Linked DNA regions of Homo sapiens: regions 1, 2, 3, 4, 6 and 7 are each reported to be linked to region 5. Evidence: microRNA targets listed by miRTarBase, many of them from high-throughput screens and not tested one by one. Region 5 holds a microRNA gene; each other region holds the end of a gene's coding sequence.
The links. Region 5 holds the annotated microRNA hsa-miR-4691-5p (GUCCUCCAGGCCAUGAGCUGCGG, at 2,567-2,589, shown strand). A microRNA usually pairs through its seed, bases 2 to 8, with sites in the 3' UTR of a target mRNA and lowers its output. Matches are read on the target gene's strand: a 7mer-m8 pairs with bases 2 to 8, a 7mer-A1 pairs with bases 2 to 7 and ends in A, and an 8mer does both.

Region 1: the mRNA of TRPC4AP is a reported target of hsa-miR-4691-5p. Seed matches in the 3' UTR shown: 7mer-A1 at 918-924.
Region 2: the mRNA of DYM is a reported target of hsa-miR-4691-5p. Seed matches in the 3' UTR shown: 7mer-A1 at 3,249-3,255, 8mer at 2,240-2,247 and 7mer-A1 at 1,935-1,941.
Region 3: miRTarBase lists ZCCHC8 as a target of hsa-miR-4691-5p. Seed matches in the 3' UTR shown: 7mer-A1 at 2,967-2,973.
Region 4: miRTarBase lists KCNJ6 as a target of hsa-miR-4691-5p. Seed matches in the 3' UTR shown: 7mer-m8 at 2,878-2,884, 7mer-A1 at 2,351-2,357, 7mer-A1 at 2,339-2,345 and 7mer-A1 at 1,750-1,756.
Region 6: miRTarBase lists PNMA3 as a target of hsa-miR-4691-5p. Seed matches in the 3' UTR shown: 7mer-m8 at 3,485-3,491, 7mer-A1 at 3,130-3,136 and 7mer-A1 at 2,381-2,387.
Region 7: the mRNA of STK11IP is a reported target of hsa-miR-4691-5p. Seed matches in the 3' UTR shown: 7mer-A1 at 1,021-1,027.

Annotation. Positions count from the first base shown.
Region 1 is chr20:34,999,374-35,003,721 of GRCh38, reverse strand. It overlaps TRPC4AP (transient receptor potential cation channel subfamily C member 4 associated protein), which reads left to right. Exons shown (of 19, transcript NM_015638.3): 18 at 106-312; 19 at 439-1,318. The coding sequence ends at 576. It overlaps MYH7B (myosin heavy chain 7B), which reads right to left. Exons shown (of 45, transcript NM_020884.7): 36 at 4,317-4,348; 37 at 4,027-4,151; 38 at 3,816-3,931; 39 at 3,033-3,429; 40 at 2,829-2,954; 41 at 2,564-2,734; 42 at 2,373-2,477; 43 at 2,196-2,291; 44 at 1,637-1,774; 45 at 1,285-1,545. The coding sequence ends at 1,534. Among named protein-coding and RNA genes, the nearest start is that of MIR499B, 11 kb to the right of the region's middle.
Region 2 is chr18:49,040,592-49,044,939 of GRCh38, forward strand. It overlaps DYM (dymeclin), which reads right to left. Exons shown (of 18, transcript NM_001353214.3): 18 at 1-3,613. The coding sequence ends at 3,464. The region is part of intron 4 of DYM-AS1 (DYM antisense RNA 1); the gene reads left to right. Among named protein-coding and RNA genes, the nearest start is that of MIR4744, 7.0 kb to the right of the region's middle. RefSeq lists an enhancer at 3,800-4,348.
Region 3 is chr12:122,469,484-122,473,818 of GRCh38, forward strand. It overlaps ZCCHC8 (zinc finger CCHC-type containing 8), which reads right to left. Exons shown (of 14, transcript NM_017612.5): 14 at 2,117-4,335. The coding sequence ends at 4,014. Among named protein-coding and RNA genes, the nearest start is that of ZCCHC8, 29 kb to the right of the region's middle.
Region 4 is chr21:37,621,281-37,625,628 of GRCh38, forward strand. It overlaps KCNJ6 (potassium inwardly rectifying channel subfamily J member 6), which reads right to left. Exons shown (of 4, transcript NM_002240.5): 4 at 1-4,204. The coding sequence ends at 3,879. All of the region lies in intron 1 of KCNJ6-AS1 (KCNJ6 antisense RNA 1), which reads left to right. Among named protein-coding and RNA genes, the nearest start is that of KCNJ6-AS1, 100 kb to the left of the region's middle.
Region 5 is chr11:68,031,344-68,035,691 of GRCh38, forward strand. MIR4691 (microRNA 4691) reads left to right here and starts at 2,554; the gene lies at 2,554-2,638. NDUFS8 (NADH:ubiquinone oxidoreductase core subunit S8) reads left to right here. Exons shown (of 7, transcript NM_002496.4): 2 at 809-866; 3 at 943-993; 4 at 1,580-1,669; 5 at 1,768-1,940. The coding sequence starts at 809. It overlaps MIR7113 (microRNA 7113), which reads left to right and starts at 1,521; the gene lies at 1,521-1,579.
Region 6 is chrX:153,058,032-153,062,364 of GRCh38, reverse strand. It overlaps PNMA3 (PNMA family member 3), which reads right to left. Exons shown (of 2, transcript NM_013364.6): 2 at 1,903-4,333. The coding sequence ends at 3,918. Among named protein-coding and RNA genes, the nearest start is that of PNMA3, 3.7 kb to the right of the region's middle.
Region 7 is chr2:219,615,373-219,619,720 of GRCh38, forward strand. STK11IP (serine/threonine kinase 11 interacting protein) reads left to right here. Exons shown (of 25, transcript NM_052902.4): 25 at 672-1,079. The coding sequence ends at 821. It overlaps LOC124908064 (a long non-coding RNA gene), which reads right to left. Exons shown (of 2, transcript XR_007088701.1): 2 at 2,991-3,759. Among named protein-coding and RNA genes, the nearest start is that of SLC4A3, 10 kb to the right of the region's middle.

The DNA.
Region 1 (4,348 bases), not on the chromosome of region 5:
CGAGGCCTGGGGCCACTCTCCTCCCTGCCTGATGGCTACCCAGGTTCACCAGGGGCCACTGGGGCTCCCACCAGCCCCTGACCCTGTGGGCCTGTGGCCTTGCAGGAGAACGTCAGCTGCCTCAACACCAGCCTGGTGATCCTGATGCTGGCCCGACGGAAAGAGCGGCTGCCCCTGTACCTGCGGCTGCTGCAGCGGATGGAGCACAGCAAGAAGTACCCCGGCTTCCTGCTCAACAACTTCCACAACCTGCTGCGCTTCTGGCAGCAGCACTACCTGCACAAGGACAAGGACAGCACCTGCCTAGAGAACGTGAGTGCCCCACCCTCAAGGGGGTGATGGGTGGGCCGCGGACCCAGGGCCTCTCAGAGGGGTGTCCCGGTGCTGGGCTTGACCTGGGTCCTCCAGGCGCCCCCCAGCCCCTCCCTCTTTGCCCAGAGCTCCTGCATCAGCTTCTCATACTGGAAGGAGACAGTGTCCATCCTGTTGAACCCGGACCGGCAGTCACCCTCTGCTCTCGTTAGCTACATTGAGGAGCCCTACATGGACATAGACAGGGACTTCACTGAGGAGTGACCTTGGGCCAGGCCTCGGGAGGCTGCTGGGCCAGTGTGGGTGAGCGTGGGTACGATGCCACACGCCCTGCCCTGTTCCCGTTCCTCCCTGCTGCTCTCTGCCTGCCCCAGGTCTTTGGGTACAGGCTTGGTGGGAGGGAAGTCCTAGAAGCCCTTGGTCCCCCTGGGTCTGAGGGCCCTAGGTCATGGAGAGCCTCAGTCCCCATAATGAGGACAGGGTACCATGCCCACCTTTCCTTCAGAACCCTGGGGCCCAGGGCCACCCAGAGGTAAGAGGACATTTAGCATTAGCTCTGTGTGAGCTCCTGCCGGTTTCTTGGCTGTCAGTCAGTCCCAGAGTGGGGAGGAAGATATGGGTGACCCCCACCCCCCATCTGTGAGCCAAGCCTCCCTTGTCCCTGGCCTTTGGACCCAGGCAAAGGCTTCTGAGCCCTGGGCAGGGGTGGTGGGTACCAGAGAATGCTGCCTTCCCCCAAGCCTGCCCCTCTGCCTCATTTTCCTGTAGCTCCTCTGGTTCTGTTTGCTCATTGGCCGCTGTGTTCATCCAAGGGGGTTCTCCCAGAAGTGAGGGGCCTTTCCCTCCATCCCTTGGGGCACGGGGCAGCTGTGCCTGCCCTGCCTCTGCCTGAGGCAGCCGCTCCTGCCTGAGCCTGGACATGGGGCCCTTCCTTGTGTTGCCAATTTATTAACAGCAAATAAACCAATTAAATGGAGACTATTAAATAACTTTATTTTAAAAATGACTGCTGTGGACCTGGCTTTTGTCCCTAGGACTGTGTTTTTCCTCCTGAACCCCAAAGAAAAGAATGAGAAGGAAACTGGCTGTGGTGTTTATTCAGGGCCCAGGGAAGGCTGAAGGCAGCAGGGGGCGATGCAGAGATGGCAGGATCGGGGCAGGTGGCCTCAGCCAGATGTGCAACAGCAGACATTCCTCTTTAGAGCCCAGGGGGTCAGGCCGTCACTCCTTGTGCTGAGGAGAAAGGGATAGCTGAGTGAGCAGTACTACCTGTCAGCCCCCACAGTCCCCCTGCACAGAGAGCAATGCCCCTGCCACTCCTCACCTTGGGGCCCAGGGCGTCCCGGGTCCGTGCCCGCAGCTTGTTGGCCTGGGTTTCCGCCATGTCTGCCCGCTCCTCCGCATCATCCAGCTCGTGCTGGGCCTTGCGATACTTGGCCAGGTTGGTGTTGGCCTGCTGCTCCTGGGGGCACACACAGGGCCTTGGTTCCGCTTGGGTGACTGAGATGCTTATTCTGGTCCCTGCCCCAGTCCAAGAAGGGAGCTAGCTCCTCCTGGTTCTCAACTTTGTTCCTATTGCCACTGTCCATCCTCACCAATACCACAGCGGGAATAAGGAAGTTGGGACGCACCAACTTCATGTGCCTTTTTGTGCCTGCCCCACCCCTCAGAGGCAGCCCCAGCCTTGGCCAGGGGAAAGCACATGGGGTCTGTTCCATGAGAAGGAGCTAGGTCTGATCTCCCCAGAGATGTTAGAAGCTTCTCTCTTCCCTCTGGGTCACTGACCTTGGAGGGTGGAGCTGCTGCTGATGCCTCACCTGGCCACAGACCCTGGGGCAGAGCTGGGGTGCCCGGTCCAGGTGTCCAGGCCCCAGCGCACTCACCGCCTCCTCAAACTGGCGCTTGTAGCTCTTGACCTTGCTCTGCAGCTTGTCCACCAGGTCCTGCATGCGAGCCAGGTTCTTCCTGTCCTCCTCGGCCTGGGCGGGCAAGGGGGACTCAGGGCTTGCTTGGGCTGGGCCAGCTCCAGGGCCACTCCCCAGGGAGACCCTGTCGCCCACCTGGTATGCGAGCTCCTTGACACGGCGCTCATGCTTGCGCACGCCCTTAAGGGCCTCGGCGTGCTTCTTCTGCTCTGCATCAAGCTCAGCCTCCAGCTCCCGTACCTGCAGGCAGGGGGACAGCCTGATGCCAAGCCCACCCCTGGGTCACCCACCCTGCCTGCGCCAAGGACTAGAGGGGCTGCACACACCTTGGCCTCCAGCTTCTGCACCTGCTTCTTCCCGCCACGGAGGGCGGCCTGTTCTGCCTCCTCAAGGCGGGCCTGGAGCTCGCGCACCGTCTGCTCCAGCGTCTTCTTCATCCGTTCCAGGTGTGCACTTGTGTCCTGCTCCTTCTTCAGCTCCTCGGCCATCATGGCCGCCTGTTGGGGAGGAGGAGCTGGTCAGGTGCCCAGCCTCAGGGAAGTCCCTCTGCAATTCTGTCCCAGGCTCCCCACAGCCCTTGCCCAGCCTCACATCAGTGATGGCCTTTTTGGCCTTCTCCTCAGCCTCCCGCCTCTCCTGTGCAGCCTCCTCCACCTCCCCGCTCAGCTGGGCCAAGTCCGCCTCCAGCTTCTTCTTCTGGTTTAGGAGGCCTGTGTTCTGAGGGGAAGAGGAGTCTCAGAGCCAGCCAGCCAGCAGGCCTGCACCTGCTCTGTCCCCAGGGACTCCTGTCCCCACCTGCGAATGCAGAAGGTTGAGGCGCTCGGTGGCCTCCAAAAGCTCCTGCTCTGCCAGTCGCCGGCTGCGCTCGCCCTGCTCCAGGGCAGCCCGCAGCTCCTCCAGCTCCGCAGCCAGCAGCGAGGCCCGGCGCTCCAGAGCCTGCGCCTGCTCGTGGAGCTCAGCTGCCAGCCGCTGCTCCTCGTCCCGCCCTGCCTGCTCCTCCTTGAGCTGTGCCTGCATCAGCCGCGTGGCAGCCTGGGCCTCTGTGGCCTGACGGGTGGCATGGCCCAGCTGCAGCTCCAGGTCGTTGAGGTCACCCTCCATCTTCTTCTTGAGCCGCAGCGCCTCATTGCGGGCCCGTGTCTCTGCATCCAGGGAGGCCTGCAGGGACTCCACAGCTCGCTGGTGGTTGCGCCTATGGGAGGAGGGTGGCATGAAAGGGGGTCTCGTAAGGGCATACCTGTCCTTACAAATGCCCAAGGACCGTTGGAAACGAACCCATTTTGAGAACAAATGAGTCACCCCTCCCCGATTTAAAGTCTCTTGTGACTGCCTGTGGCCCATCAGAGCAAGTTCATGGACAAGAGTGAGGCCCAGGCAGACAGAGGTGGACTGACTGGCTCCACCCCCACTGTGTGACTTTGGGCAAGTCCTTTAGCATCTCCGAGGTTCACAGCTAGAATGGAGACAGCAACCCGGACCTCAAAGTCCCATGGGAGGGACAGACTAGAGAGCAGAGTACACACTGCTTCCCTCCCCTTCTGCTCTCGGGAGGTGGGGACGGGAGAAGGATGGACACACCTCAGGTTAGCGCACTCCTCGTCTTTCTCTGCCAGCTTCCGGTCCACTTCTGCTTTGACCTGGGAGAGCTCCAGCTGGATCCGCAGCGTCTTGGTCTCCTCCAGCTCCAGGGCCCCCTGTGGATACAGAGCAGGCAGGGTAGGGTGGGGGGGGGGGATGGCCAGTGGAGCAGCAGGTCAGTGTCCACCCACCCCTGCAGCCAGCCCCTGACCTCTGCCTCCTCCAGTGCAGCCTGGATCTCACTCTTCTCGCCTTCCAGCGCCTTCTTGGTTTTCTCCAGTTCCTGGATGCTCTTCCCACTGAGACTCACCTGGTCTGTGAGGTCGCTGATCTCCTCTGCAGTGGACAGGGTGCTGAGAGGCCACCCCCATGGCTTGTACTCCCACCCAGGTCACTCCACTCACCCCTGATTCCAGGGTGGCCCCACCAGGGCACCCCCATAACTCAAAGTTGCTCCGACCCCAGGGCAGCACCCTGGCCCTGGCGTGTGGCAGGTCCTACCCTGCAGGTTCTTGTTCTCCCGCTTGAGCGTC
Region 2 (4,348 bases), not on the chromosome of region 5:
AATTGTTCTGAATTTGGAGTCAGAAGGCCTAATAATCAGTCCCTAAAATCAAGTGGCAACTACTGATATTGCAGGATAGTGCCTAGGAAAGAATTAAGAGACCCAAAGGGTTGACCTTGCAGAGACTCCAGCCTATGAAGTATCAGCAAGTGCCAAAAATTTATGGCTCTGCAAAAAAGCACAGGGTGACTCAATTATGCAGAGAGCTCTACCACCCAATGCAAAACCCTGGCTCCCGGAATCTAAAGGACGAAATGTTGCTTAAAGTATGATATATTAACAATTCCAGTGCTTAAAAGTTTCCCTCACTAAATATTTCTCTTGGATGTACCTTAGCAAGCTCTTAGGAAGTTGCTGAGTGTTCTGATGCTGGTCCTGTGTCCTTTCCACTTTCTATCGTCTACTTCCCAGCTCCTGTGCTTTCCTTCCAGAGAGAACTGTGTGTGCAGTGTACTTTCTATGCTTCACCTTCAGGGACCTTCTCTTCTTTCCTTTCTCTGTCTTTGTCCTTGAGCTGTGTTGTCTGCACTGCTGAATGGTGGCAGTCCTGCTGCAAGGTTGTTGTTCATAGATTGTATGACACCAGCCTCAACGGGTGACTGTGGGAACTAGAGTTAGAAATCTGAAGCTCTTCTGCAAAGTGCCTTGAACTCTTGATAGGGAAGATGCTATTGAAAGGGACAAATTCTTTTAAAAGTAAATATTGTGGCAGAAGTCTTTGTTGATAAAATGACACAATGCAGTAACAGCTTCAGATCTGGGGTAAAATCAGATGCCAATTTCCATCTGAACACACGATGATCCTGTGTTGCATCATTACACATTTTTACTTCGTGTAAAAATTTCTAAGCAAACTAATACTCAAAATTAATGCAAGTATAATGAAAGTTTATCATTCAGATTTATTGCCATATAATAAATCTTTCACAAAAATCAGGAAGAAGCCTCTGGTGACTTTGCAGAGCTGAGGCAGTGATGCACGTGGTGGGGCCTCCCTCCTGAGCGGGAACCAGGACTGGGAGCATCACTTGCAGGCCTCCATGGAGGCTGCTGCCCCAGCTGAGCTGTTAGCTAGTGAGTGCTTCTACTGTGTGATGAATGAGAAAAGGGAAAGAGGGGAGGGCAATCAGGGTTCTGGGGGCACCTCAGTGAGCCCAGAGGCCTGGAGGAGAGGCTGTATGATTCCCCAGTCAGGCCTTCCTTGGGAGTGTGCCCTCTGTCAAGATGACTGGGTTTTTGAAGGGCCTCATTTCCTCACACAACAAGCACTGACAGTCCTGCAGCCCAGGGACTGTCCTGTGGCACTGCCCAGCCCTCAGACTCAGAGGACAGTTCTGTGGTCCTGCCAGAAGCTCAGCTGTTCCACATGACCCTTAAACATTTAAACAATTTTTTGGTTTAAAGGAAAAGGAAGCCAATCAAAATGCTTTGGAAACAAATTAAAGTTGCAAATTATTTCCCCACATAGTAAATACATATCCTTGCTACCTGAAATGATAATCATCACTCCCCCTGCTGGCTGAGAGCGCTTCTCCTCCTTCAGACTGGCTCTGCCACAAAGCTAAGTATTAGTAGAAGTTGTTGCCAAGCCTCACCTCTAGCCTGTACATGGGCTCTGAGGTGAACACAGGAGTCAGAGTCCCCACTCCAGCAGTGACTGGAGGAGGCCTGACAGAACAAGCCCCTTGGGGACAGGAGGCAAGCTGCACTCACCTCTGGGACCCCACCCGGGATGGGCGCTCCACGAGTCCCTTGGCCTTAGGGAACCTCTGTTTCATTCCATCCAGACGAGGATAGGGAAGCTTCCTGCCCTACCTCGACAGCCTCTAAGAGCACAGCTTGGCCAGGCCTTCCCGTGTGGAGCCCACACAGTGGTGCACTGAGAGGCTGCCAGTGTTTTGACCTTTTACAGAGCTTGGGGTGACTGAGAATGGTTCCTCCGAGGCCCTCGGAAGATTTGATGGACTCAAATAACACGGGCCTGCAGCCCTGGGACACAGGACAGGAGAAGCCAGCCCTGACACAGATGAGCTGGCAGTGGATTCGAACAGTGTGCTCAGTCTCGTCTGGGCTTTTGTGCTTTCTATGTTGAAGACCAAATACTTTTTCTTTGAGAATGAAACTAGGCTCCTTATCTAGACTGTGAAGGGGCCCGTGAGGACACAGAGTGTGACTGGAAAGGAAGGTCCCAACTGGCCCTCAATGTGGCCCCAGTGGCTGTTTCCCTGCAAGAAGCTCCTTCCTCCAGCTCAGGCACCAACACACGGATCACACCGGCCCAGAAACAAAGAGCAAAACATGCTTTTCATCCCACGTGGAATACAGTATGAACAAATTACTCTCCTTTTTCTATTAGTGTGGGTGAAGGAAAAAGACTGTTTTCAAATGAAGCTTTTCTTTTTCCCAATGATTAATACAGAGTAGATTAACTTAATTTGTGCTAGACTCCAATTTAATTCCAGCAACAGTTCACAGGCCATATTCACAGAAAAGTTAATCTGGGCTTCATGAGAAGTAGCCATTTTCTTTTTCTTTTCTTTCTTTTTTTTTTTTTGCGAGACAGGGTCTCACTTTGTGGCTCAGGCTGGAGTGTACTGGCACGTTCTTAGCTCACTGCAGCCTTGAACTCCTGGGCTCAGGCAATCCTCCTACCTTAGCCTCCTGAGTAGCTAGGACTACAGGAATGTGCCATCATGCCTGGCTAATTTTTAAGTTTTTTGTAGAGATGGGATCTCACTATGTTGCCCAAGCTGGTTTCAGATTCCTGTGCTCAAGGGATTCTGCTAACTTGGCTCCCCAAAGTGCTGGGATTACAAATGTGAGCCACTGTATCTGGCCCATATTCTTTTTTAAGAAAAGATGCAGAGGTGTTAAATATTAATATCAAATTGTCCAGGCATGGTGTTTATGAAATTGTGTGCCCTCTGACAGGCAACCAAACACACACGACTTCATTTCTTTATTAATTCCTGCCTCATCATCTTTTCTCATTGATGCTCCTTAATGTCAAAGGAATCTCTCTCTCTCACACACACATAAGACCAAAACAAATATCTTGAACATGCAAAAAAATAGTCTACGCTTTTGAATAGTGTGCACTGTTGAATAGTGTGCACTGTTGGATAGTGTGCACTGTTGAAGTGTGATGTGCCTAAGGCAACAGGATCTTGGGAAAGCTCTAGATTTTTGGCTTCGAAATAAAACTGCATGTTGAATAGCAGGTTTTTACATTTATTATTGTTGTGTATTTCCTCCCCTTTTTGCAATACTATCTACGCTGAGTTATCTATTGCCAACTAGCACCAATTCTCCAAATCAAAGTGTGTGAGGAAAACACACTCGTGCAATCCTCTTTAACAGAAGATACACCAAGTAACCTGTCTGTCTACTTCTGTTACCCAGAAATAAAAGAACTTGAAGGGCTGCTTGGCTGGAGGGGTCCGGGTGGGAGAGCATCCTGCCCTCAGTCGGAATCCATGGTGAACAGCTGGATGTCCTGTGGATTCCAGTACAGGCCGACTGCTGAGTTGTAGACAAGAGACCAGACATAGGGGATAAAAAACTCCTCGGGCTGCTCCTCTTCCACATATTTGAATTTCAATTCTGGAAATTTCTGCAATGAAAATAAGATGATTTTATAATCCCACAGTTCCATGCACAAGCAAAAGTGGTGAGAGTTTGCAGGTGGTGCTGTGGTGTGCGGGGAGCCCACCCACCCCTGCCAACTGGTCACAGGGCATGAAAGCTCTGGGGCTTTAAAATATTTCAGCTATCAAATGGCTCCTGAGAAAATGTGAATTACCGATGGAGAGAGCAAGTAACACAATGGGTCCTGGTTGGCTAATGTCAGTTTGGCTGATAGTTCCCTGCTAGGGACCCCAACAGTGGTTAAGGTATGATGAGAAATATCCTAGCTGAGACATGGACCCTGCCTGGGAGGCAGACAAGGCTCAGGCTGATATTCCCCAGAGTGCAATGCTAGGGACTGGCTTTTGAGAGGCACTGTCCTCAGGGTTCCACCATTCTGGAGGTGAGGACCTTCCCCTTCACAATCCTGAGCCCTGACCTGAAGGGGTAGGCATGTGCCACCGGTGGAGGGGGGCTACTCTGGAGGAGCGGGGGTCTGGGGTGGCCAGCTTTCTTGGCCATAGCTTGGCCTCAGTCTCTTCCTCCCTGGAGGCAGGAGCAATGGCTTTGGCTTTGCGGAGAGGGAGCCCGAGGCTGCTCCTCATGGAGTCTGGGAAAAGGCCTAGGCCTGGCTCTACAAACACATCGCAGGTGCCCTGGTCTGCAAACTCCAGTCCTCTGTTATGTAAGGAGTCGTGCAGCTCAGTGGCCTAAGGCAGCA
Region 3 (4,335 bases), not on the chromosome of region 5:
CTACAGGCGCCCGCCACCATGCCCAGCCAATTTTTTTTGTATTTTTAGTAGAGACGAGGTTTCACCAAGTTAGCCAGGATGGTCTCGATCTCCTAACCTCGTGATCCACCCGCCTCGGCCTTCCAAAGTGCTGGGATTACAGGCGTGAGCCACCACATCCGGCCTTTCTATACATTTCAATGTGCATTTTTGTCTATGAATCCTCCTACCTACGCTTTAAGGATTAGTTCAATGGTTACCTATTTCCAGAAGTCTTCAAATACCCTCCAAATGAATAGTAAATCCAGTGGTCCGGAGAATTTGAAGTCAGTCCTCCACAGGTGATTCTCTCACCACCACAAAATGGCCCAAGTACCTTGCCTTCCTCTCATGGCTGCCAGCTGAATCGTATTGTAATTGAGAGGGAACCCTCTATTTTCTCCTGGTACTGGATAAGCTCCTTAAAGGCAGATTCCAGCACTTTTTTTCCCCCTCGAGACAGAGTCTCACTGTCGCCCAGGCTGGAGTGCAGTGGCCTGATCTCTGCTCTCTGCAGCCTCCGCCTCCCGGGTTCAAGTGATTTCTGTGCCTCAGCCTCCTGAGTGGCTGGGACTACAGGTATGCACCACCATACCTGGCTAATTTTTGTGTTTTTAGTAGAGATGGGGGTTTCACCATGTTGGCCAGGCTGGTCCCAAACCCCTGGCCTCAAGCAATATGCCTGCCTTGGCTTCCCAAAGTGCTGGGATTACAGGCATGAGCCACCGTGCTGGGCCACAGTATTTTTTCTTTTCTTTTCTTTTTTTTTTGAGATGGAGTCTTGCTCTGTCACCCAGGCTGGAGTGCAGTGGCACGATCTCGGCTCACTGAAAGCTCTGCCTCCTGGGTTCACGCCATTCTCCTGCCTCAGTCTCCCGAGTAGCTGGGACTACAGGCGCCCACCGCCACGCCCAGCTATTTAAAATTTTTTTTTTTTTTTAGTAGAGACAGGGTTTCACTGTGTTGGCCAGGATGGTCTCGATCTCCTGACCTCGTGATCCACCTTTTTAATGCGGAAAAGCACACTGAAGAACATTTATCAGAAGTATGTCCTCAGTAAGTGGCTGAACAGGCTGAGTGTGGTGGCTCACACCTGTAATCCCAGCTACTCTGGAGGCTGAGGCAGGAGAATCACTTGAACTTGGGAGGTGGAGGCTGTAGTGAGCTGTGATCATGCCACTGTACTCCAGCCTGGGTGACAGAGCGAGACCCTGTCCCCCACTCAACACCCCCCAAAAATTGAACAAATGAAATAGCCCATTTTTTGAGAATCAGTGCTTTTGGCTGGGCGCCCGGTGGCTCACACTTATAATCCCAGCACTGTGGGAGGCAAGAGGTGGGCAGATCACCTGAGGTCGGGAGTTCGAGACCAGCCTGACCAACATGAAGAAACCCCGTCTCTACTAAAAATACAAAATTAGCCGGGTGTGTGGCACATGACTGTAATCCCAGCTATTTGGGAGGCTGAGGCAGGAGAATCACTTGAACCCGGGAGGCGGAGCTTGCAGTGAGCCAAGATTGTGCCACTGCACTCCAGCCTCGGCAACAGAGCAAGACTCTGTATCAAAAAAAAAAAAAAAAAAAAAAAAAGAATCAGTGCTTTTGTAGAGCTTTTGACAAGGAGGCAGTACAGCAGTTAAGAGCACAGATACGGGGGTCAGAGAGATCTAGATTTAGATTTACTAGGTTGTGTATCAGCTGTGTGTTTTAGTATGTGTGTATTTAGCTGTGTGTATTTCCTCTCAACAATGAGGTTAACAATGCCTACCCAATGTGGTGACGGTGAAAATGGGGTAATGCACAAAAATACCTTAACACGATGTCTGGTAAATGGCAAAGAGATAACTATTAAGAGACCTCTGGTATTCACAGGTGACTCTACTAATGCAGTACTTCTTAAAGGGACATTTAAACAACTACTGCTCTGATTTAGGGAATAGTCAAGTCTTTAGTTGAACACTCACCTTAAGAACCACTTCTGGAATGTCGACAAGTTCCTTTAACCTCTCTCTGCCTCCCTTTCCTTACTTCCAAGTGGTGATAATAATTTGCCTGACAGAAATGCTGAGCGAGATCAGGTTAAAAACACTATGTAAACAACTGTAAAGGATTGCTTTTATTTTGAACTTAAGCTGAGGAAAAGAAGCCAAAAGTATTTTAAATTTTATTCTATTTCTAGCACATTCTGTGAGGGCTTTAAAAAGAAATTTCTCTCTTTATAATTTTCCTTTCCTTTATTCTTTACAGAACAGTAAATTCTGATTACTCAAGTTCTCAAAAATGAAAGCTATATCTGGAATGTTTCTATTTTGCTCCCCCTGTTGGCCTGAGAGCAGGATAACACTGCCTGAGACTAACAATTCAAGACGATCTAAACATTTATTTTCATGGACTTGACTAATATAAAGATGTAATGGCATTCCACAGAAAGACCTAAACCACAGTTTCAGCTCTATCTTATATATATACCTGACAATTAAAAGCAGTATGTTTATGTTTAATTTTTAATTTTTAACTATTAGGGTTCAAATCTAGAAAATTATTTTTATACAAAGGCTAGCTGCATGCCATTCATTTTTCAAAATAATTACTTTTCAAAAATTCTGCTGTTTCTATATTTAAGGCTGAAATCCACTGAAAACACCCAAACTTGCAATTCCTATCATTATTTTTGTTTTGCTACCACTGATTTTTACAATTTACCTTTTTTTTTTTTTTTTTTTGAGATGGAGTTTTGCTCTTGTTGCCCAGGCTGGAGTGCAATGGCGCGACCTCGGCTCACTGCAACCTCCCACTCCCAGGTTCAAGTGATTCTCCTGCCTCAGCCTCCCGAGTAGCTGGGATTACAGGCATGTACCACCACACCTGGCTAATTTTTGTATTTATGTAGAGATGGGGTTTTGCCATGTTGGCCAGGCTGGTCTCGAACTCCTGACCTCAGGTGATCCTTCCTCCTTGGCCTCCCAAAGTGCTAGGATTATAAGCATGAGCCACCACGCCTGGCCAACAATTTACTTTTAAACTTAAAAGTTATATGCACCGGCCAGGTGAGGTGGCTTACGCCTGTAATCCCAGCACTTTGGGAGGCTGGGCGGGCAGATCACCTGAAGTCAGGAGGTCAAGACCAGCCTGACCCGACGTGGAGAAACCCCATCTCTACTAAAAATACGAAGTTAGCTGGGCGTGGTGGCACATGCCTGTAATCCCAGCTACTCCGGAGGCTGAGGCAGGAGAATCGCTTAAACTCGGGAGGCGGAGGTTGCGGTGAGCCGAGATTGTGCCATTGCACTCCAGCCTGGGCAACAAGAGTGAAACCCTTGTCTCAAAAAAAAAAAAGGTTATATACACTGATTTTACCTGTGAATCACTTTTTTGTATTCAAAGTCTTAGATTATGTATATGAAAACTAATTTATTAAACCTCTGTACACAAAGATGAACATACCTGTATAGCAAGCATATATGAAGGATGAAGTTACAAAAAAGTAAAAGTATTACTAAAATTGACACATGTAAATCACTTACAAAAATACCCCAAATGGGATAAAGCTGCTCATCCCTGATTTTTCTCATTTGGTTGTAGGAGTTGAAACATGAATTTAAAATGGTAGAATTTTTTCTTTTAAAAAGTGATATATTAAACTTATATACAGGATAATTAGCAAAATGTAGAAAGGGAAAACAATGTACAAAAGACAGATAAAAACCATCACTCTCGACGGATAGTCACAATCCAAAAATAGTATAAACCTTAACAAACCCTCTCTAAACCAGGTCATATTCACATCTCCCCCCAAGTTTTGTCAGTGAGAATAAAATATACTGAACTAGTGAGCTCAGTCTTTCTTTAAAATAGGCTTGACTTTGGAACATGAACCTTGGATAGATTTTTAAACATGGGAGGGACAAACAGGAAAACCATTCTATCTATCCACTTAATTAGTACTAATTAACGGAACAAAGTTATTAAATAGCTCTCAGTGCTAAGTCAAGCCATTATTCAGAGGCCTTTTTGTTTTTCTGCTGGTTTCGGGGTGAGTTCTTTAACAAGCTTCTTATCCTGAGGTACATTCCAGTAGATTCTGCCATATTCTCAAATTCAAATGGCGTGATTCCAGTTGCAAATTTGCTCATGTCAGGTATAGGGCTATGAATTTTAGTGGCCGTTGAAGGACTGGTGTCTGCAGGAAAGAGCTTCTGGCTGCCCCCATTGCTGATGTCACAGTTTGGTACGACACTGCCATTATCAAGAAGGGCACCTTCAGTGTTTACCGGAGCCAACTCTGCTTTTTCCTTCTGACAAAGTGATGTCACCTCA
Region 4 (4,348 bases), not on the chromosome of region 5:
ATTGTATTCTCTCAGCAAATCAAATGATTTCCCATTCTTCTGGTGAGTTCAGGTAGTTTTCTAATAGCATTCTTATGCCCCCTTTCTCTGTCCACCAGTTCCCACCTTTGTAAGCAGTTTCTAAATATCCCAAAGACACTGGCTTAAATCTAAATAAAAAAGCAAAGGGGAAAAAAGTAAGAAAACTGAAATGTAAGAAAATGTAGGGATGGAAAGCATAAGAATGTTGCTCTGGAGAATTCAAAATTTAGACTATTAAATGAAGTCATGAATAATTTTTAAATTGGAGTGCAGTGAAAAATAGACATTTCAGAGCCCTAGCTTGGTTAGACCTGCAAGAGAAAATTGTGCTTAAGAAATAGGTTGACATTTGCAGCTGGATTTCTGTTAGGGAACATAAGGTACTGAACTAAAACAATAGAATTGGAACTGGAGAACCAGGGAAACAGCAAAGGATGGGGATAGATGGAAGAACGGAGTGGGGGAAGAGAGAGTTCTGCCTCATGGACATAGAGGGGATATATGCTGGAACAACCAGGCTGGAAGGCCATGTTTGAAGGAACAGAAAAGTTGACATTTGCTATGTTAATGTAAAAGAGTATAGCTTACCCAGGGGACAGCTAAAACAGAAATGATTTTATTGGTTCCATAAAGTTGATTTATAAATGAATGGGTGCTCTTCCAGTTGGAGAGCACGTTGGGGTGGGTGGAGGTGAGAATCCGAGGAACTCAGCAGCCTTGTGGTGGGGGGTCATGCTTGCAGCTGAACCTGCCCTTCCATCCAGGAGCACTTTGTTCTGTCAAATTGGGGTCAACTGTGGCAAACCATAACCCTTAAATTCCAAATTCTTATCTGGCTCACGGATCCCACCATGCTTTATGGAAAAATGACTCAAATACATTAACCAAACAGACCAAAGGATCTAGTTGAGAGTGATCTTCATTAGTTATGGATACTGTTGTATTAAAAGAGACTTTTAAAAAATTCTCATTGCACTTGGTTTGCTAATGGAGTGACTGAGGGAATGAGGACTGGATATTGCGGAATAGAATGAGTGGAAATTGTGGGGTCAATTTTGTTGAGCTGTCTTAATGGAAAACACCATTCACTCACTACTCGCTGCTTAGAAAATCAGTCTCAATGAACTTTCAGTTCCAAATTTTAACAGTTGACACAAAATACACTGTTAAACTGTGTTAACAACTGTAGAAAAATAGACATGTTTGATAGGGACATTCTAGTAAAAGGTTCTTCAGGAGCATCCCCATGTAAAGATTCAGAGGCTCACATTACAAAAACGAGATTTGGTTCAAGTTCTGTCTCCAACTACATTGACAACAAAGACAGTGAGAAACAGGGAGAGACCTCACATCTGGGTGCCCGTCACAGACACAGAACTGACAGGTGCACGTGGCCAACGTGTTGTCAAGGCTCTTCGTTCAGTTGTGCTAAAGGGCAGGCAAGCAGGGATGAGGCCCTGAGCTGCTTGCTCTTCCAACCAGACACGGGGGTGTGCGCTGTCCTTTAAACCTTAGCAATGGAATTAAAAAGGCCCAGTGAGTCTTCAAGAGCTAAATTAGAAGACATTTTGCCGCCCCTATTCCATCTTGTTTTGTGCCTGCCATGGCCTGCCCTGCGACCCTGGCAAGGTTGCAGGGGAGCTCCCCAAGCCAAGAGTGCCCTTCATTAGGCTGCAGAGAGGTCAAGCCATGGCTCCTCCCCGCAGCCTCAAGGGGAGTGTATCGAGCTTCCTCCTCCCGGACCACCACCTCCTTCTTAGAGTGTGCGAAATAAAGAAATGATTCAACAGAGATTCAATGCAAAAAAGGAAATGCTGGCAAACAGGAAAGGGCTATAGCCAACAGTTTTGTTTTCCTTAAAGTCAGTGCCAAGAGGCAGTTGTCCTGATCCAAGGTCTCTGAGATGGGAGAAGAGAGGCCCCGAGGTTATATTTAGGAGCCACTTTCCTTATCCTGGGACTTCTTTTTTAGTAGACAAGGTCCCCAGACTACACCAAAGGCCTGTGCGATCAGGTCAGGGAAGGCAAGGGAAACAAAGAGGGACAGCTAGTTTGATCTCTTTGACCTCCATGGTGCAGAGCCTCAAACTGAGCACAGCTGTAGGAGCTGAAAATAAACTTGGATCCATTCAATGAATATTTATGATGGGCAACTGTGTTAAAGAACAAACAGCTTATAAATGCAAAGTGAATGTGAAAGATCTGTAACAGTGCAAAATCTCCACCTGCCCCGGAGGTTTGATCTAAGATTTGTTTCCTTATTTTTTTCATTTTAAAATTCAGATTTCCAGTACAAATACCCTTCCTTCCTTCCTTCCTTCCTCCCTCCCTTCCTCCCTTCTTTCCTTTTTGCAGATTAAAGTGAATTAAGGCTGGAATTTTTTTATTTGTTTTCTTTTGATTGACAGACACTGGATTTGATTTCTAGCCTGTGGCATACTCTAGAGACATTTCTTAGACAATCATCAAGATTGTTGATCTAATCTTTGAATACTGAACTCTGGTCATTTCAAAATAATAAAAGATCACAATGCAAGAAATGCTGATGGATAAGCCCCAGGGACAGGCGAGATGTCATTCTCAGAAAGCCAGATAGAGTCAAAGTGAGAGGTCGATGATTATAATGCATGCCACTCACTACATGCCTTTGTGAATTTCACGGCTTTAGACCCAAACCATCTTCTGCTAACTTACCATGTCTCATTGTAAGAGTGTAGAGAAACTACAGCTGGAGAATCAATGGTTTTGCAGAAAAGTTTCCTAAATTATTGTACTACAAAGGGCAAGAGCTCATGTGAAAAGTAAAAACATACCTTTGGTGACAGGCTAGAGAATATTTCCTTCCTGGTATTCCCCCTCCTCCAGGCCAGTTAGTGAGGCCCTTGTTATCTTTTAAAAAAAGACATCTGTTTTGTAACATTTCACAGTATATCAGCATATTGGTGGTGGGTTTTGCCATCTACCAGACCTCTCAATTTCCCCCAGACCTATGGCTTGTTGGATTCAATGAAAGGATCCGTGTGGGAACAGTGAGGTACCCTAACGTCTGCCAGTCTGAGACACAAACAAAGGCCATGCACTGAAGGGCCAGCCGTCAACTGGATCAAAATAACCTGGAAAACACAGACATCAAAACAGAAATGCCTACTGCATGTTAGGAATCTTTCTTTCTTTCTTTTTTTTTTTGCTTCTTATTTCTAAAGTTATATATCTAAACCTACATTAATGATACATCTATGTACAGTATTTAGCAGTTCTGTTCTATGGTACTTTTGTACATGCTGGGTTTTATTACTAATTACAAAAAGAAAATAATTACATAAGGCATATATATGTACAGTGGTTTGTCTTCAGCTCACCTGGGCCCTGTAACTGCCACACCCACATGGGGGCAAGCACCTCACCCTGTAGTAGATGAAATGAATTGGGATCCATAAAACTGAGGGCTCCACTCTGTGTCTCACTGAATGAATAAATAGGCACCAGAAACCTTGCTTGTCATATCCCAGGTAAAATCTTTGACACACCTTTTTGAGTGATCTGGTATTGTACAACACATGCAGGTAAGTAACTGAAATCTCCAGGAGTTGGATGTGTAGTATTTTGGGAGGAGACCAGGCTTGGGCCACAAATGAGGGCACTTTGCACTTTCATCAAATCCATGTCTACCTTGTCAATCTGAATAACTGAGAGAGGGCAGGTAGATATTTTACACCTTGAAGATTTGTTTTCTGGTCATGTAAAAATTAAATATAAACAAATAAAGAACAAAGCAAGAGAGACAGAAAAAGAAAGAGAATGAGAGACAAGGAAAGATTGTGTTGGGGGGAGAAGAGAAGGGTTTGCCCAGCTAGGGCACTAAACTTTGGATTCATTCTCCAGGTTTGCCACATCACCATTTCTTTCTGTTTGCTCTTCGAGGTTCTTTTCTTCCTCTTCAGTCTCCAGTTCTGCATGTTGGTTGAGTTTGCTGGATACAGACCAACTCAGGGGCAGCTCTGCCCTGCTGGCTAACTCGGCCAGCTCTTTGGCACTAAGGGATGGGGTGCTGGTCTCATAGGTCTCATGGAAGCTGTTGTAGTCAACTTCGTAGAACCCGTCCTCCAGGGTCAGGACAGGTGTGAACCGGTAACCCCACAGGATCTCACTGGTGATGTAGGAGCTTCGAGCTTGGCATGTCATCCCTGCAGAGAGAAGAATGGAGGCTTTAGCATATGTAAGTGTGGGCTTTCCATGGCCAAGGAGTCACAGAGAGCCAGGAGGAGTACTGCATGCAGCTGTTGAGACTGACCTGCATACGATGCCACACTTAGTAGGTGTCATTCATG
Region 5 (4,348 bases):
TCACTTTTTTATCTTTTTTTTGAGACAAGGTCTCACTCTGTCGCCCAGGTTGGAGGGCAGTGGTGCAGTCTGGGCTCACTGCAACTTCTGCCTCCTGGGTTCAAGCGATTCTCCTACCTCAACCTCCCGAGTAGCTGGGATTATAAGTGCCCACCACCACACCTGGCTAATTTCTGTATTTTTTGGTAGGGACGGGGTTCCACCATGTTAGCCAGGCTGGTCTCAAACTCCTGACCTCAGGTGATCCACCTGCCTCAGCCTCCCAAAGTGCTGGGATTACAGGCGTGAGCCACCACACCCAGCCCTAGCGAGTCACTCAACAAACTGAGTCCCAGCGCCTTATTTGTGCCTCCCTCGTGGAGTCCTTGTAAGGATAGGATGGCAGCGCTTTCCACCCCTGGGCACGGTTCCTGGGGGAGGAGAGCTAACAAAGTTCGCTCTCAGTGCATGCTGGCGGGGGCTGGTAATGTTGTTTTTGGTTAGATTTGGGGAGGATGAAGGGAGGAGCAGAAAGGTGGGAAACAGGATCTCTGGGAGGGAGAAAGGAAGGATGGATTTAAAAGGTTTCTTAGGTGAGGCAGAACTTGGGGTCCACAGAAACTGAATTGTAGCTCAGCCAAGCTGAATCAGATGGAAAGCTGGGAGGCGCTGGGAACAGGAAAGCCATCTGTGCCTCTGACAGCAATGGGGTGCGAGTAGAGGGCAAAGTGACACATGTCAGTGGAGACTTGGGATCCTTGCGGTGCCAGTCTCAGAAGAGGATGGTTCTTGGGCACACCCCACCCTCCATCCCTTTTTATGCCACCAGATGCGCTGCCTGACCACGCCTATGCTGCTGCGGGCCCTGGCCCAGGCTGCACGTGCAGGTAGGACCAAAGAAGCCTTTGCTGGGGGTAGGGGAGTCCAGTCTCCTGGTATGACGTCACGCCCTTCTTTTTGCAGGACCTCCTGGTGGCCGGAGCCTCCACAGCAGTGCAGTGGCAGCCACCTACAGTGAGTACCTGGGTGGCCTCTAGCCTCAGGTGTTCCTGACTGGTCCTGCTGGAGTAGGGGAAGAGACCTGAGTTCCAGTCCTGGCTTTGTCAGGGGCGTTCTTCTCTGAGCCTGTTTCCACTTTTAAAATGATTATGGTGATGGAGACTGACTCTGATTCACAGGGGCAGGGTCCATCATTGCCGAGGTTAGCATGTGTGATCTCAGAGCTCCCTGGGTGTGATGGGGAGGGGGTTGCCAGGTGTGAGCCATGGGTACCTGTGCCTATTGCCAGTCCCTGGTGAAGGCAAAGGCTCAAGCCCCCCACCTACCCCCCTTGATTCCTCTTTCAAGCCCTGTTGGGCAGGGAAGTGCGTCTGGGCTCCAATGGCCACCCAAGCACAGGGAGAGGTAGGCACGGACGGGCTCAGGCCAGAGGCGGCCTCCAGGGTCCTTGCTGAGGCTGGGGAGAGGTGTGGTGAGTGTACAGCCCCTTTGTAGCCCAGCAGTTGCACCTGGAAGTGAGGGCCAGGCTGCTCTCCCTGAGGCTCCAGGGAGACAGTGTGTGAGGCCTCTTGCCATGGCCTCCCTGCCCGCCTCTCTGCAGAGTATGTGAACATGCAGGATCCCGAGATGGACATGAAGTCAGTGACTGACCGGGCAGCCCGCACCCTGCTGTGGACTGAGCTCTTCCGAGGTGCGTCCTGGGCATGAGGGGACAGGGAAGGTGCCGGGTGGGCACGGATGCATGGGGGAGGAGGGTGCCCCTGCCCACCACACCCGTGCTGCCCACAGGCCTGGGCATGACCCTGAGCTACCTGTTCCGGGAACCGGCCACCATCAACTACCCGTTCGAGAAGGGCCCGCTGAGCCCTCGCTTCCGTGGGGAGCATGCGCTGCGCCGGTACCCATCCGGGGAGGAGCGTTGCATTGCCTGCAAGCTCTGCGAGGCCATCTGCCCCGCCCAGGTGAGCCCCTGCCCCAACCGGCCACCACGCCAGCCCCTGCCACTGGGAGAGGGAGGCCAGGCAGCCCTAGGCCCAAACCCTAGCCCCTGCTTGATGTGCGTCCCCAGGAAGTCCCTTTCCCCCTCTGAGCCACTTCCCTCGTGAATGGGAATGATGAGGGCTTGTTACCAGAGCACAGAGTCAGTGAGTTGGCAGAGTGAAGCTTCCAGCCCTGGGCAGGCGCCTGACACACAGAGGTTCCCCCTTGGGGTCTGGCCAAGGGTGTGACCCCTGGGCCTCTGAGCCATGGGGTGACACCTGAGGCCATCCACGCCTCCCTGGATGTAGCCACCGTTTCCGGAGTCCTGCTTGTGTGCCTGTTGCAGCTTCCCTTCCCCAGTGGCTGCTCCCCTGAGGCCCGGCTTTCCGTTCTCTTAGTGGGTCTCGTGCTTACCCGTGGGGGCCAGGCCTGCCAGCACGGGAACAATATGACTCGGTCAGAGCTCTGGTCAGACCCCTGTGTGTGCCTGGCAGGAGCCCCGGCAGCCGCCGCCGCTACTTTCTGTGTGCACAGCAACCCCTCCCAGTGTTCTGTGACTCGGGTGGCTCCTGTCCAGATCCTAGTTTGTCCTCTGGAGCACTCCCAGGTCCTCCAGGCCATGAGCTGCGGCCCTGATGTCTCTACTCCAGCCACGGACTGAGAGTGCATAGGAGTGTCCCCAAACAGCAGTCACGATGGTCACAACCTTGGCTTCCAGACAGTGAGTGCTGTCCACAGACAGACCCGGTGCTGTGCCATGTGTGTGACTCACAGCCTCTCCTGTAATCTCCACAACCCCTCGAGGAGGTCGAGGTTATTGTCTCCATCTTTATAAGCACTAAAGGATGAGCCTGCCAGCCACAGGTCCCACTGTGAGTTGTGGACACTACATTTCTGGGATGGGGGCATATGAGAGTCCTTGCCAAGCACATTTGAAGGTTTTCCCAGCCAGCCCCTCCCCCAGCGGGCTACCCAGGAACTGAGAGTTAGGACGTGCCCTTGAGTTTGGGCTGTGCCCCCACTTGCTGTGTAGCTTTGGGGAGCCCCTCAACCTCTCGGAACCTTGTTTTTCTCATCCATCAAATGGAGAGAAGTAGATTTAAGGCACAGGATTGCACCCAACAGTGTAGGCATTCTTGGCGATGTTGCAGGTTCGGCTCCAGACCATCGGGGTAAACTGAGTCACACAGCTGTTTTGGTTTTCCAGTGCATTTAAAAGTTAGATTTAGACCGGGCACAGTGGCTCATGCCTGTAATTCCAGCACTTTGAGAAGCCGAGGTGGGCGGATCACTTGAGGTCAAGAGTTCGAGACCAGCCTGGCCAACATAGTGAAACCCCGTCTCTACTAAAAATAACAAAACTTAGCCGGGCACGTTGGCAGGTCCCTGTAATCTCAGCTACTTGCTAGGCTGAGGCACGATAATCACTTGAACCGGGAGGTGGGGGTTGCAGTGAGCCAAAATTGAAAAAAAAAAAAAAAATTAGGGCCGGTTGCGGTGGCTCACGCCTGTAATCCCAGCACTTTGGGAGGCCAAGGTGGGCGGATCACAAGGTCAGGAATTCAAGACCAGCCTGGCCAACATGTTGAAACCCCGTCTCTAGTAAAAATACAAAAATTAGCCGGGTGTGGGGTTGCACACCTGTAGTCCCAGCTACTCAAGAGGCTGAGGCAGGAGAATTGCTTGAACCTGGGAGGCGGAGGTTGCAGTGAACTATGATTGCACCACCATACTCCATCCTGGGCCACAGAGCAAGACTTCGTCTCAAAAAAAAAAAAAGGATTTACACTGTACTGTAGGCTGCGAAGTGTCTAAAACACAATGTATATACCTTAATTAAAAATACTTTAGGGGCCAGGCACAGTGGCTCACACCTGTAGTCCAAGTGCTTTGGGAGGTCAAGGTGAGGGGATTACTTGAGCCCAGGAGTTTGAGACCAGCCTGGGCAACATGGCAAAACCCCGACTCTACAACAACAACAAAAAATACAAAAAATTAGCCCCTGTAGGCCCAGTTACTTGGGAGGTTGAGGTGGGAGGATCGCTTGAGCCTGGGAGGTTGAGGCTGCAGTGAGCTATGAGCTGCACCACTGTACTCCAGCCTGGGTGACAGGGCAAGACTCTGTCTCAAAAAACAAAAACAACAACAAAAACTTTATTCCTAAAAAGTGCTGACCCAGAGATAAGAAGCAAGCACATGGTTGGTAAAATGACATCAGTGAGCTTGCTTTATGCAGGGTTGCCCCAAACCTTCAATTTGTAAAACTCAAAATATCTGGAAAGCTTGGTGAGGCGAGGCGGGACTGTAACTCAGCACTCACCGCAGGGTGAGACCCTTAGGGCAGCGGGTGCTACACTGAACAAAGCGGTGAACAGCCCCCTCGTGAGAG
Region 6 (4,333 bases), not on the chromosome of region 5:
GCCACTGCACCCAGCCAATATAGGTATATTCTAAGACCTAAATGCAAAAGCTACAACTACAGAGGTTCTAGAAGAAAACATAGATCAATATGTTTGCAAATGTGGGCCAATGAAAGATATCTTAGGCAAGACCCAGGCAGTGGTCATTGTAAAAAGAAACAAATGATGCAATGGACTTCATTATAATTAAACCCATCAGCTTATGAACAGACACCATTAAGAATATGCATAAGAAAGACACAACTGGTAAAAAGTGTTCCCAGCACACATATCAAAGTACTTGTATCCAGAGTATTTTAACAACTTGCACAACTCTAATAAAAAATTTAAAAAGCCAGGTAAAAACTAGGCAAGGGACTTGAACAGGCACTTCGCTAAGGAAGACAGATAGCTAATAAGCACATGAAAAAGTGCTCGATATTATTAGTCATCACAGAAATGCAAACTAATGCCTCAGTGAGATACCACAGTGAGTCACCCAACAGAATGGTTAAAAGTTTAAAGCTGGCAATACAAGATTTTTTGGAGTACCCTAAGAAACGAGCACTGCTCATTAGAGTATAAATTGTCACAATAGCTTTGGAAATCTGTGTGAAGTTTCTTATAAAGTTAAATATACCACTACCCTGTGGCCCAGCCATTCCATTCCTAGGTATTTACTCGGGAGAAAGGAAAACAAAAGTCCACAGAGATTCATACGAGGATGTTTCTATCAGCTTTAATCACACAATAACTGTAACACATATCTATTTTTAGATTAGGGACCTTAAAATAGATACTGCACTTGATCGTAGCCAAAAGGCCAAGAAGCCATGTGAACCTTAAAAATAGGAATGTGCCAGGGGTCAGAAATGGATGATTAGCTAGTAGGCCCAGCTCTAGGGCCATCAGCCTAGAGGCAACAAAAGTCTCACTGCTGTTTGGTGGCAAAGAAACTTCTACCTCTCTCTGCCTTCTTTCCAACCCTCTTGATCCCTTAAAGAAATAAAAAAAAAATCAATCACCCAACATTTGCACTCACACGAAAATTCACACACCCTCTCATAAACTGTCTCATACACACTAACACACATACTCACACACTCACCCATTCCACACATTCACGCATATGCACACACAAACTCATAAACACACTCTGAAACACACATTCACTCATGTGCACACTCAACAACACAAAGTCACCCACACATTCACTGTCATACACACATTCACACACCGTCTCACTCTCACATATTCACATACTTTTACTAACACACATATACATTAAACACATAAACATACATTTGACCACTAACACACATTCACTCACACACAAAAACTGATGCATACTCACACTCAAATACAAACACACATTAACATATTCACACACCATCTCACACACTCACATATTCACACATTCGCTGACACATGACACACACAAACTCTCCTACACTCACTCTCACACAATCACTAGTACGCATACTCACACATATTCACCATCTCACACACACTCACAGAGATGGGCCTGGTTTTGATGCTCCAGGTGTGGAAGCCCAATAGTGATACAAGGGATCCTGGGGCCACTGGTCCAGCCTGCTGTCCCTCACCCTTCCTTAAATATGTTATTCATTTCTGAGAAGCTCAACCAGTGCCCTGAGGACCCAACCAGCCACTGCCTGGGCCTACCAGTGTCCTGTCTACTGGGACTATCCAGCCTGCTCAGCTGGGTTTCTTTGCCTGGGTCCGTGGGCCGTGAACCCTAGCTCATGACCAACATGCGCAGATAGGGCATTCTAGAATGCCTTGCAGACCGAGCCCCAAGTATACACCAGTGTTAACAAAGCCACTGTGGCCCTCACTCCACCCCAACCCCATGCCCAGCCAACCTCATCCCCAGTTTCCCACAGCAGAGGCGAGGCCGGCTGGAACACTGAATGAAGTTTATTGAAGAGAAACACGTACTGAAAACGTTGAAGAGAAGGGAATCACAACACAGAGAGAAACTGCAAACGGCCACCACAGGACACAGGTCCCACACAGGTCCCGGGCCCCCTCCTCCTGAGGTTCCTGGCAAGACGCCTCATCTGCTCCTACTCCTGCTGCAGCCCCCGCTGCCAACTCCCTCCTTCCTGAGGGCCCCGGGGTCTGCCTCTTGCCAGGAAGGTAGACTCTGGCAGTGTCCACTGGCTTTAGGGAGTCCCCTCCCAAGCCCATCTGCTGGGGCAGGGCCCTGCCCTATGGCCCGCACAGGACAGTCACAGGACACTGGAAAACACAGCAGGGAACACCCTACCAGGTTAAGGAAACTGAGTCATGAGTAACAACAGGGGTGGAACACCAAAGCACAAAGCTCCTCGGGAGCCTCAGGCAGGGCAGCCCCGCTCCGTCCTGGGTCCAGTTCTTCCTCCCACAGTCACGGTCACCATCGTGGTCACAGGGTGAGCGTCCGCCTTGCCCTGGTGCTTCCTTCCTGTCATCTCCTGGGACTGTGCTGGGGGACTCCGGGGAGGAGCTGCTCAGAGAAGAACACACACAGCTCCACAAGAACAAGCAGCCACTGGCCTAGATCTACACAGGGAAAGCAGAGGTGGTGCTCATGACGCGGGACAGCAGTGAGCAGAGCCTGGGCTCACAGGAAGCTCACAGCATGTGCCTTGGGCCCAGAGGCGGCCACCTGGGTGGGTGCATAGCACACTACTTTGCACAGGAACAACGGCTAGCGGTGGGTGGGCGTCTGCTGGACGCGTGGGTCACTACAGGGGCCTACACAGGTGAGGATGAGCTTCCTGGAACAGGGGGCAGCCTGTCCCGGGAACAGTGAGTTGGGGGACCCCTCTTGGGAGACCCAGGCATCTGGCACCCTTGAGAGGGCCTCTTTCCCCCTGTCATCTCCCAGCTCAGGGCTGGGGGAGTTTGGGACAGACGTCTTCAGGTGCCTCCACCCAGGCCATGGCTGGCTGCTTAGGGGATGCCTCCAGGCTGGATTCCCCAAGGTGGCAGGGTTGTGGCTGGCCTTGGAATTGGCATTGGCATCTGTTGAGTTGCTTTGGCCATGGCAGCCCCAGGTTCTCCTTGCTTGATCTCTCCAGGAGTCTGGTGGCCCTGTACAGAAACAAGCAGAAGAAACAAAACCCTACCAAGTCCTCCCTTTTCCTCCTCCTTTGCAACAAAGACTTCCCTTCACAGCCACCCTGGTCCAAGTCAACTGTGAGGGCACTGGCCTGCCGGGTACCCAGTACCCCTGCTGGGGGTCTTCTCATCAATCTTTGGTCTCCTTGCCTGCACAACCTCTGGCTGGCACTGGGCTCCCGGGGCCTTAGGGTCTCCTGTCCTCACTGGCACAGGGCCTCCAGGGTGCTGCCTTCCTGGGGCTCCCCTAGTGCAGTGTAGATGATCCTGAAGACGGGATGGACCCTGTGGCCTCCCCTGCAGGGCTTTACCTCTGCCCCCCAGCTCTTCCTCACCAGCCCTGGCACCTGCTGGCAGGGGCAGGCCCCAGGTAGGCTCCTCCAGGTCCCATGTGGCCTGGGGGCCAGTGGGCATGTTCAGCTCAAAGTCCACAGGGTGGGTATTTAGGGGTGGTTGGATGAGCAGGACAGAACCCCCAGCCGTACCTTCTTCAGCTTCTGCTTCTTTGGGGTCCCCATCTGAGGCCCAGGCACCCCATGTGCTGGATGCAGTGGCTCCCTGCTTTCCTCTCCAGCACCTCTTCGGGGACCTGGACCTGACCCCCACTGAGCCTGTTGCCAGGTGGTCTTGGTTGCTGAAGTCCCTTCCAGCTGGCCAAGGGTGAGAAGGCTTGGCCTTGGTCTGGCTGCCCTGTCCCTCTGCCCCACTCAACTCATCTGCTGTTTGTCTGGGCTTCTCTTTCCCCTCCTTCCAATATCTCTTTTGTCTCCTTGGCCTGTGGTAGGAAATGTTGCCCTGTTCTCCCGAGCCTACTTGGCCTTGGACTTGGGATGGCTCTTGTCCCAAGCCCAGTTCCCGTTTCCCGACTCAACTGCAGCCTGTTTCTTCTGCTTTACCAAGAGCAGGTTGGAGGGGTTGATGCACTGTACCCTGATGTGGCCGTCTTCCCCACAGCTATAGCAGAATGTGTGGCGTTTCCGTTTTCTTGAGCCTCGAGAGCCAGCCCTTGCCACACCACCCCTTCGGTGTTGGCCTCTGCCCCTCCGGCGCCGGTAGCCCTGGGAAGGCCTCGCATCAAAACTGTTGCCAGAGGCAGGGAGAGGTACTGCCCCAACCCCAGTGATCCTGGCAGGTGGCCTTGGGGCTACTTCCAGCCCCTCCAGACTCTCCCTATCTGGACCTAAAGTGGCCTCCCATTCCTCCTCCTCACGCAGGAGCTTCACCA
Region 7 (4,348 bases), not on the chromosome of region 5:
GAGGGGAGATGGTGAGCACAGGTTGGGGCCATGAGGGCAGGGTGGGAAATGGGTCTAGGAACCCTGGGCATTGGTGGCAGGATGGCACTTACAGATGAGAGAACTAGGGTTGGAGGAACTGGGGGACTCTAGGCTTGGATGAATATCAAGTCAGGGAGGCAGCTGTAGGCAGGGGAGACACCTGGACTGGGAGCCCAGCCATTTAGCTGGGCCACGAGGCTTTCAGTGAGGTTTCCGGCAGCTTTGAGTTGGCAGGATTGGGCCGGTTGTATGCCAGCCGTTTGGCCTTTGTGACCACCACCTGAGGAGATACGGTTACTGGTCCTATTTACAGGTGAGGAAGCTGAGGCTTGGGGATGTTAACCAGTTTGCCCAGTCCAAAGTGGTGGAGCCGGGAATTGAATCCACAGTTCCCTGAAATTGAGCCCGCATCTTCTGTACAACAGGGAAGATGAAAAAGACAGGTCCTCTGGAGGCTTTCAGTAAACGTCGGCTGGATTCTGTTTACAAAGCTCAGAGTCAGGATCTTTTATGGGGAGTGACATGGGCCTGGGGAAGGGGAGAGGCACTGAGCCAAGGTGGAGACAGTGAGGCCTTCGCAGAGACCTCCCTTGTACCCACCCTGGTGTGGTCCCCATGAGCCTCGCCTTGCTAACTGCTCGGTCTGCCAGGTGTCCCGGCTGGAGAGCTTTTGGGCACTCCGTGTGGTGTGTCAGGAGCAGCTGACAGCCCTGCTTGCCTGGATCCGGGAACCATGGGAGGAGCTGTTTTCCATCGGACTCCGGACAGTGATCCAAGAGGCGCTGGCCCTTGACCGATGAGGGTCCCACGCTGACCTTGGCCCTGACCTCAGGAGCCACGCTGTAGACATTCCCTCTCCTGGTCTCTGGGTCTGGCTTCCAGGCTCTGGCTGTGGATGTCTTCAGCCTCTGGGTGCTGGCCAGTGAGGTCCCAAATGACCCAGGGCTTAAGGGAGAGGCGAGAGAATGATCTGGCCTCAGGGGACAGGCCACCTGGTCAGGAGGAATATTTTTCCTGCACTTTTTCTCAGGTATCAATAAAGTTGTTTCCAACTCATAGGTCATGTGTGGTACTTAGAGTCACTCATAAGGCCTGCAGTTCCCCTAACCTCTTCTGACAGAAGCTATCCCACCCATCACCTTTCCTGAATGGGCAGCTCCAAGCAGCCTTGTTTGTGCCATGAGACCCCATCTCCAACCCAACTGTGGTCCCAGCATGGGAGATCAAGTAGAGCTCCTGACCCACAGGCACACAGCCCCAAGCTGGCAGTGACTTGTCATGTGGCCCGGCATGGAATTGCTGCCAAACAAGTAGCTGGGCCAGATACGGTCCTGCTCTCTTGAACTTTACATGGAAAGTAGTGAGGACTTCAGGCCATCGCAGAGGGTGTCTGGGGAGAGGGTGTGTGGAGTTGAGTGGTGACCTCTGGTGCTTCCTGCCATTGCCTTCTCAGCACCGCCTCACTCAGCCTGGAGGCCTGGATGGTCAGCCCCACTCCCTCACCTCTTGTCTCCAAGTCTGGCCCCAGTGATTGGTTCAGGAATCCTCATGTGAATTCGTTTGGCTTATGAAGCCCCAGCGCAGGCATTTGACTAGAGCAACCAAGAAGGAGGCAAGTTTCCTCTCAGGGTTGCTGTGAGGATAAGCCTGGAGCTGCTGGCTGTGGGGAGGCGCTTTCCTAAAGTGGAACCATGAGAGAGAGGAAGATGGCCCAGATGGAGAGAGCAGGGCCAGACTCTGGGGATATCTTTGAAGCCCCTGGGTCTAGTTGTGCCCGAAGACAGAAACCCCTGTGACTTTAGGTAACATGATCTAAAAAAGAAGCCCTCCCCTCCCTGTTTCTATGGCTTAAGCTAATTCGAAGCAAGTATGAGCCACCAAGAGTCCCAACTAAACAAACCCCGACTCCAACTTGAGCTGGGCTGAGATCTGTTTCTTGTACCCAAGAATGAACACAATGGAGATCATTACAGCCACACAGTTGTGCAGAGAGGCTCTGGTTCTTGGTTCCGATTCTGAAGTGAGGCAGAATGATTAATCCAGCTCACTTTTTGTGTCAGGTCTATGGCCTTGACCACTTTGTGACCCGACTGCTTGGTGGGAACAGCAGTACTGGGGCTGTGTCACTGGGGCCTTCTACCTGGAAAGGATGTGGGAAGGGTTGCCTGGCCTAACCAGCCCACTACATCTCTAAATCCATGGGGCGAACTTTTTAAAAATGAAAAAGGGTCATTGAAAATCCTGTACTTTTACATTTATTTAAAATTATTTAAAATGTATTTAAAAGAATGTATACAGGAAAAAAATGTATACTGTACTTAAGAATGTAGAGTGAGTTGCTCTCATATGCCTGACCCCCTAACTCTAGATTCAAGCATTCTTACCCAATTTTTGTGTATCTGCTTAAAATCTCAGTGCATGTACACAATTTTCCCCAGAAAAGGGTAATTAAGCCATTCACTTCCATTTAGAAAAAAGATTGGCCGGGTGCACTGGCTCACGCCTGTAATCCCAACACTTTGGGAGGCTGAGGCGGGCGGATCACGAGGTCAGGAGATGGAGACCTTCCTGGCTAACATAGTGAAACCCTGTCTTTACTAAAAATACAAAAAATTAGTGGTGGAGGTGGGCGCCTGTAGTCCCAGCTACTCTGGAGGCTAAGGCAGGAGAATGATGTGAACCCGGGAGGCGGAGCTTGCAGTGAGCCAAGATGGTGCCACTGCACTCCAGCCTGGGCGACAGAGCAAGACTCCGTCTCAAAGAAAGAAAAAAGATGATTTCTAAGATTAGTTTCTCCCTGGCAGGTCTGGCCTGCTTTGGCGGGAGAGTAGGGGGGGAATGGTAGGAGTCATGGAACCGGCTAGTTGGGAAATGCTGGCTGGGGTAGAGGCCTCTTGGAAACAGCTGCAGAGGCTGAGGGCCCAGAAAGATCTGTGCAGAGGCCCAGAAAATAAATTCACCTACTTCTGTTTTGCTCAGAACTGCCCTCAATTTTTAATTGAAGCAAATTAAAACTTCCCAAAAATATTAGTCCACTTTCTTGGCAAGGTACACAGCCCCTTCTCAGTCAGTGATTTTGGACCATCTGCAAACAGGAGCTGGTACTGGTCCTGAGGAAGGCCTTTCCCTGGCCAGAGGCTGCCCTTCACACCAGGCCTGTTTGCAGGCACTTCCCCAGAAGCCGGGTCAAATCAGGCCATGGTGCAGATGGGGCAGAATAATCTCCAGTCATTCAAGGTGATTGGTAGAGAAGTGCGAGGCAGGGAGTTGGAAGAGGAGTTCCTTCCATTTCTTTGTGCTTACCATCTCTGTGAACACCTTGTTTTCTAGAACAGTGCAGTGGAGTCTTCTGCAGTGTTTATGCAAAAGTGCTCTTTTTTTGGTGACGCAGAAGACAGAGGTCAAGTGTGAGGTCATCACCACTCCTGGAGGTGTCTGTCCCTTTAGTTCTGCACCTCACTAGGAGCAGATGAACCAGGTGCACCTGCCCCTCTGACCCTTCCGCCCTCTGAGCAAAGGTGACTGCTTTCCCACTGGTGCTCAGCACAGGTGTCAGTAGGAGGCCCTTGACCCTGGACAACTCCCAGAGATGGATTCCTCCATTCAGTCTGGCCTTTTCCCTCCAGCAAGTGCTTATTGATTGCCTGGCCTCTGTTTGGCCTTGGGCTTGCTGGCATGAAGGACGCAGACCTCTGGCTCCTGGAAAGCAGTGGAGAGAAGGGATCCTCTCACCTGAAACTAAATCCAAGGGAGAAGCAGGAAATCAGTGGTGGGGAATGAAGATGAGGATGAGGAGGAAGGGGCACAGAGGTGGTATTGAGGGTTTTTTTTTTTTTGTACTTAGAAAAATTAAAAACCCTCTGTATTATAAATTCAAAAATTATATTTAAAAATTTATATAAGGCCCTAGGGGGGTTAGTGACTTAACTAAGTGATAGAAAAATCAATGACTAAGACTTCAGAAGCAGGGAGCAGGCCAGCTCGACAGACCTGTCTCTTTTTCTCTGTAGGAAAGGGTCTGTCTTTGCCACGTGGAGGCGACATCCTCCACCCTTGTCAAGATGCTGCGGTAGCTTCTGAAGAGACCCTACCCAGATTGTTTGGCTGTGGTTGAAAATTCAGCTATGGTTCTGTGTGTTATGTTTTGCCCATCACTGAGCACATGCATTATTTCACATCTATCTATTCATCTACTCAAGGGGTGGTGTGGTGTGGTGGTATAGGAAAAGAGATGGTGGATTTAGCTCTAAAACATCCAGGGTTATGCCTTAGTTTTGTGGCTCCATATTTAATCACAAAAGTGCTCACCCTTGTTCCCTCATCTACT